2 linked regions of the Homo sapiens genome follow. The protein of the gene in region 1 purifies or fractionates together with the protein of each later gene. This does not show direct contact. Each region holds a gene or a part of one and is shown in the gene's direction. Other genes may lie near its edges.

What was found. Proteins that work in one complex are often made in the same cells at the same time.
Region 2: the proteins of SYPL2 (region 1) and CYB5A purify together in Homo sapiens (affinity purification with mass spectrometry; one large-scale study listed by BioGRID and IntAct). This does not show direct contact.

What each region holds. Positions count from the first base shown.
Region 1 is NC_000001.11:109,473,046-109,476,545, forward strand, and holds part of SYPL2 (synaptophysin-like protein 2), read left to right. Parts: intron 1-2,535; coding exon 2,536-2,660; intron 2,661-3,500.
Region 2 is NC_000018.10:74,264,464-74,267,963, reverse strand, and holds part of CYB5A (cytochrome b5), read left to right. Parts: intron 1-3,500.

The sequences.
Region 1 (3,500 bases):
AGCTAAGAGGAATAAAGAAACTTCTAAGAGGAATCAGATGGCCACAGAACTGACAAAAGATTAGCGAATTCCTATGAGGAAGAGTTAGAGAAGTTCCACTATTACAATGGTGAGGCCACTTTGAGTAAGTAAAGGGTAATGATGCAGAGGCTTCGAGTGACTCTTCTCTACCTCTGTGAAGAAGGCGGGCAGACAGGGCTCTACTGCAGTCTTCATCATTTAATTCAGGAGAGGAGGGTATTTAGGCATTGGAGGGAGGTTTTACTGTCTTCTTTCCCAGATATCTTTAAACATGGAGACAATTCTCATTTGTCTGGAATAAACCTCCTGAAAACAGAGAGGTGCCCATTATTTGGAGAGAGGCCAATGGCTCCAGCATGGAGATCTGCAAGGCCAGGCGCTGCAAGCCGGGGGCAGTGGCACTGGACACCTCGCAGGGGCAAAGCACAGCTGTTGGCAAGCCCAGTCAAGAGTACACTGACAGTGTTACTCTCAGAGAGTGAGAGAGTTCCAGGGCTGGAAAGGGCCTCTAGATTATCTACTCCAAACCCCTCCATTTAAGATGAGGAAACAGGCTGGGCTCATGCCTATAATCCCAGCACTTTGGGAGGTTGAGGCGGGCGGATCACAAGGTCAGGAGACCGAGACCATCCTGGCTAACACGGTGAAAACCCGTCTCTACTAAAAAAAATACAAAAAATTAGCTGGGCATGGTGGTGGGCGCCTATAGTCCCAGCTACTCAACAGGCTGAGGCAGGAGAATGGTGTGAACGCAGGAGGTGCAGCTTGCAGTGAGCCAAGATTGCGCCACTACACTCCAGCCTGGGCGACAGAGCAAGACTCCATCTAAAAAAAAAAAAAAAGATGAGGAAACAGACTCAGAGAGCAGAGTGACTTATCAGAGCTCACCTGGCTAATTAGTGACAGGACCAGGTCTGGAACCTAGGTTTCCATACTCCTAGTTCAGGTCTCCTTTCACTCCATAATGCTAACAAGCATTGGCAAAATAAAGTGCATATAGCTTCTATTCTAGACTCTGGATGCAGGGCTGACATACAGATCAGCTGTCTTCCAAGTGCTTAATGTCCAAGACACTGAGTCTCGAAGAAAGATACAGAGAGTGAACAATTAAGAGAATAAGCTCATTGCTTAATAAGAACATGACATTGTGTACAAGTCAAAGGTAAGTGCACAGGAAATCCAATCTGAGCAGATGATGTGGAGGATAAGACATTTCAATTTCTCACCTCCTTTTCTTTTTTCTTTTCTTTTCTTTTCTTTTTTTTTTTTTTTTTGGCGGTGGGCGGGAGAGGGACAAGGTCTCATTCTGTTGCCAGGCTGGAGTGCAGTGGCACGATCTCGGCTCACTGCAACCTCCGCCTCCCGGGTTCAAGTGATTCTCCTGCCTCAGCCTCCCAAGTAGCTGAGATTACAGGCATGCGACACTCTACCGCCAGGCTGATTTTTGTATTTTTAGTAGATATGGGGTTTCACCATGTTGGCCAGGTTGGTCTCAAACTCCTGACCTCAAATGATCCACCCGCCTCAGCCTCCCAAAGTGCTGGGATTACAGGTGTGAGCCACCGCACCTGGCCTCTCACCTCCTTTTCTAACCAAAGTGTGTTTCCCAGAAAGAAATCTGAAAATCATAGGATGAGGAAATTTTATTTCACTTGAGAGAGAAGGTGTAGTAAAATGTGAGGAAAGGTGGAGAAGAAAACAATTCGAGTGACCTGAGACACCTCTGGATCTTAACACTGAGAAATGGCAGCATCAACAGATGACAAAGGGAAATACCAGTGGGGAAACAGTGGAGACTGATAAGGCAAGTGGAGGGTACTTTTCTCTGGGCTTGAGCCAAGATTGTCACATTGGCCCAGCCAGCACTATTGCTAGAAGGCCATGTGCCTTTTGGGGAAGAGGAATTAGGCTGTCAGTACTATGGGACAGTAGTATGGCCCATCTGGGGTGGCTTGGTAGAAGCTGGCCCCTCCAGCTATACCTCCACCAAGGCAGGAAGCCACTGGAAGTTAGCAACTAGGAAACAAGATTAGATGACTAGTTCAAAGGAGAAATGAAAAGCGTTCTAGGCATGTCTGATCTAGGTTGATGCAGGGGAATCTTTTTGAGTGTGTCTCTCCCTTGGGAAGGAAATTCAAGTCTATCTGTAAGCTAGAAGTTTCCTAAAGCCTGAATTGCAGAGGTTTTGTGTTAGTCATCTTAAGGAGGCTACCTGTGGTCCCCAAGTCATGCCCAATGGAGAGATCTGGCAACTGTCCATTTCCTGCCTCTTCATCTCCCTTGCAGACACCACTCAGTCAACCTTGTATTCATTTGGCTATTTGGTCCAGCAGCCTGAGGCTGGAAGATAAATGGAAGCCATGGGTTTCTACCTAGGAAGAACTTGATTAAAGGGGATCCTCACTCTCCCCCACTCCCGCACTTAATGTCTGCACCTGCGGGGAGTCACGGTTAGTTCTCGACTTTGGCCAGTTGAGGCCTTCTGACTCTCAAAGAGGCTTCACTCTCTCTCAGCTCTTTGCTATTTTCGCCTTCGGGTCCTGTGGCTCCTACAGCGGGGAGACAGGAGCAATGGTTCGCTGCAACAACGAAGCCAAGGACGTGAGCTCCATCATCGTTGCATTTGGCTATCCCTTCAGGTGAGCAAGAATTGGTTCCAACCCAGCACATCATCTCTCACTTGACTGGCAGGACCTGCTTGGTCTCTTCCTCCTCCAGAAACCTAAAAACCATTCATTGCGTGCCACTCCAGATTCAAATAGAATGACAAAACTTAGATCCTTTCTGCTTTTTAGCAATTTCAGACACATTGACCAGAGCAAAACGTAAGGGAAATACAGATTGATCACTGTTATAATAATGTTCCAGTCCATGGACAACCCATGGCAGGTCACACCAGCTCATACAGAAAGAGCCAATGCAGTTTGGGATGGAGGCTTACAGGAACCTGGACAAGCTGGACAGGTCTCTCTGACCCTCAGTAGCCTCCTCTCTGCCTTGAAGGTAGGGAAGCTTATTAGTACTTACATCCTAAAGAGTTGATGTGGGATCCTCAGCCAGTACGACCAGGATACAAGTGGGCACACCTTGACAGGGAGGTAGAAGTGATCTCTTTTCTGGGTATTTGAGAGCTTAGGAAGTAGGGAGCCCAGGTGTTCAGGGGAAAATGGGGATGAGGCTCACCTTTTCAGAAATTTCTAGTATCAGCACCCAAGTTATATTAACTGTCTCATATATAATAGGCTGTGTTTTTCTCTTTAATTTGTCCACTGTCTCATTGGAAAGCCCAATAAAGCCTGAGAATGGGTGATTCCAACCTTATCTTGGCCACTCTGGGCCTGCACTTTCCAGAGGCAGAATGAAGCTGATCTGCCTAGTGGTTTGGCTACCAGAAAGAGAAGAACTACATATATTGCAGTTGTGACCTAAAGGGCCCTGGAGACACTTGGGAATACATGGTCACCATGTCTGGGCAGGGT
Region 2 (3,500 bases), on another chromosome or scaffold:
TGCCCATCCCCACTTCTGGGTCCTCCTTACTGACCCGCGACATCCTCTCCCCACCTTTCTCCCTCTCTCTGGGCACTACAGCTGGTCACTTCCCACACATGGTCGCATGAGTAGAGGCTTAGCAAGGAGTGCGTTATGGAGGACAGATTTCTGCTACTGACTTCGCCGAAGTGGATCCACAGCTTCCATTTGGCTCAGGCTCTTTGGGAGAATTTCACTTCTTTTGTTACCTCTAATCTTACCTATGTGTAACCACACATTTTGGTCTTTTTCTTAAATCTTTTAGATAATCATCAGATAAGTTTACTTACCTGTTATTCTACTACTTTCTGCCTTGCCTTTTCTTCAGGCCACCCCCAAGTGCTATAACCTGCCCAAAGGTTAGGACATAACACCGCTGCCACACGTTTATCTCTGGGCATAACCACGATGGCATAAACACCAGCATTCCCAATTTTTCTTTGTCTCTTCGGAATGCTGACAGGCAAAGAAGAGCATTTTCTTTAGTCTCCAAATGTGTGGCTCACGCCTGTAATCCCAACACTTTGTGAGGCCGAGGCAGGTGGATTACCTGAGGTCAGGAGTTCAAGACCAGCCTGACCAATCTGGTGAAATCCCGTCTCTACTAAAAATACAAAAATTAGCCGGGTGTGGTGGCAGGAGCCTGTAGTCCCAGCTACTCCAGAGGCTGAGACAGGAGAATTGCTTGAACCTGGGAGGCGGAGGTTGCAGTGAGCTGAAATTGCGTCACTGCACTCCAGCCTGGGTGACACAGCGAGACTCCGTCTCAAAAAAAAAAAAAGTGATGTGTGCTTATTAAAATTGCTGCATGTATTTACTAACAAGAGTGAGAAGATTGACAAGTTTCAAAACATGATTTAGATTCAGTTTACTTGGCCAAGTGTCTCTCTCTCTCTCTCCGTAATACATATATTTCAAGGAAAATATTAGATATTACAAAAAGCCACCCTCATCTTTTACTGTCTTATCAAGATGAGTTATTTTTTCCAAAATATCAATTTTTAGGATTTGATTTTCCTACCAATTATTAAGATAGACCTTTAGGATGGAGTGAAAATATTTTAGTATCAGTTAGTTTATTCTAAGCTATGTTTTTTTTTTTTTTAGTTTTTTAAATCTTTAAAATTTTACATGAGTTATCAGTGAAACCAATATAATCCAAGATGTTTCTCTCTCTCTCTTTTTTTTTTTTGTTAGAAAATTGCCCCACAAATGGTTTAGGCAAGGTAAAAACCAGAGGTCGATAGGTAGATTCATACATACCTATCCCTTGTTGCTGTTCTTGGTCAAAAATTAAGGTGAGGAGTTGCCCTGTTGTACTTCTGTTTCAGATTAAGACTGTGGAATTACCCCATGAAATTGAATGTGTATTTTCTCCATTTTAGCACTGTAAAGATCAGAATTCTGTATCTAAAAACTTGTCTAAGTCTGCAATTCTTTATAAAGGGCCAAGTCCATGTTTTTAACCTCACTCGAAGTCGTCCTTTGAACATCGGCTGTCCCTGGCAAATAATGATTGACTCTGGGCGATTTGTCTCCACTGACATATCCTTAACAGGAATCAAAAGTTACGGCAGCTCCTGAGTTCAGCGGTCCCTACGCGAGTAACAGCAGTCTGTGAGTTTACATAGTTGTGGGTCCTGGCTGAGTCATTTTATATCTCACCATGTGGCTTCTCTCTACTCAGTAGGTGAGTGGAAGTGTCCAACCTTAAGCAGACTTTTCTGGAATCAACAAAACCATGTTTTTATTGCTGCAGCCTTGGCGAGGAATCCAGAAGTTTCGGGTTGGCTTTGAGGTAGCCATTCTGTTGTCTGCACATCTAACGTGCATTCCCATGCCTGTTTAAGGTGGACTTTTAATAATCTAAATGGCCCCAGTAGAAGACATTTCAGTAAATTGGGGAATGCCTATACAATGTAACAGCATGTAGCCATGTCAAAGTCCCGTTGAGGAAGAATACTTAGTGACTGACATGGTTTGCACCTGTTCCCTCCAAACCTCATGTTGAAATGTGGCCTCCAGGGTTGGAGGTGGGCCTAGCAGGAATGTTTAGGTCATGGGGGCAGATCCCTTATGAATGGCTTTGTGTCGTCCTCACAGTAGTGAGTGACTTCTCACTTTGTTAGTTCAGGCAGAGTTGGTTGTTTAAAGAGCCTGGGACCACCTCCTCTCTCGCCATGAGATGTGTGGGCTCCCCCGGGCCTTCCACTGTGCGTAAAAGCTTCCCGAGGCCTCACCAGAGGCCGAGCAGATGATGGTGCCGTGCTTGTACAGGCTGCAGAACTGAGAGCCAAAGTAACCCCTGTTTTCTTTGTAAATGATCCAGTCTCAGGTATTTCTTCATAGCAGTACAAAACAGACTAACATAGAGACACTGGAAAGTGTTTAATAAAAATGCTGGGTAATAGTTACTGAGCATAAACGATGTGCCAGACACATATGTTCATAGATTTCATCCTCAAAAACTACATGCGTGTTTTCCCAAGTTCACAGAGTGAGTGGTAACCACTAGGCACCTCTGCCTCTGTACCATGTATCACCTCCTTTTTATTTTCTAAAACAATGCATAGGATAACCATCACAGTTTCTATCCAACATTACATACACATACGTGTGTGTGTATGTCTGGCTCTCTGGAGGCAAGATGATGGGTGATTTTAATTTTTTTCTTTGTGCTTCCCAGTTTTTCTGCAGCATAGATGGATAAATGTTATAAAAAGAAAAAAAAAGAGTGGATGTCCTTAGCACTAGGTATGTTTAGACCAAGTAGGAAGAGAAACAGTTTCAAATCAGAATAATGATCCACCTTCCTACAATGTGATGTGCCCTGATGTCTTCATTACTGGGAGAAATTAAGGACTGACCACAGTCGACTCTGCAAGGGAGACCGGTTTTTGTGCAGTTGTTGGACACTTGCAGGTGACTTGCTCAAGGTCAGGATGAATCTAAAATAACATTCAAGCTCAGTTAAAGAAGTTTTTTTTTTTCCTACAAAAGTACGTATTTAGGATGCTTTGCCCAAGCTCCGCTTTCTTTTTTATTACTCTGAGAGCTGCTTCCCTTGCCTGAGAATCCCCAGACCTCCTTACCTCTGTCCTGTGACTAATCCCCACTTGTCAATCATCTTGGAGAAAAAATTTCCCTCCCTGCATCATGACCATCCTTGTTTCACATATTAAAGCAGCTGAAAGCACTAAAACTCTTTTATTCCACAAGAGGCTCTTCCCGCCTCTCCCCAGTGTGGAGTTGAACCCCTGCCTCCGTGCCTCCATTGTGTCCTGGCAGCACTGTGTCCTGGTGGCAGCATCTTCAGCAAGTTACTTGTTTTGTTTTGTTTTTACCTACCAGAAAGTGAGTTCTGCAAAGGCAGGGACTCATCTATCTGACAGTCTGTGCTGCCCGTGCATTGCCGGCACGCAGGGTGCTTTCCAGAGGGAAGTGACACACGTGCCTCTTGTGAATCGTCATCTTAGGCA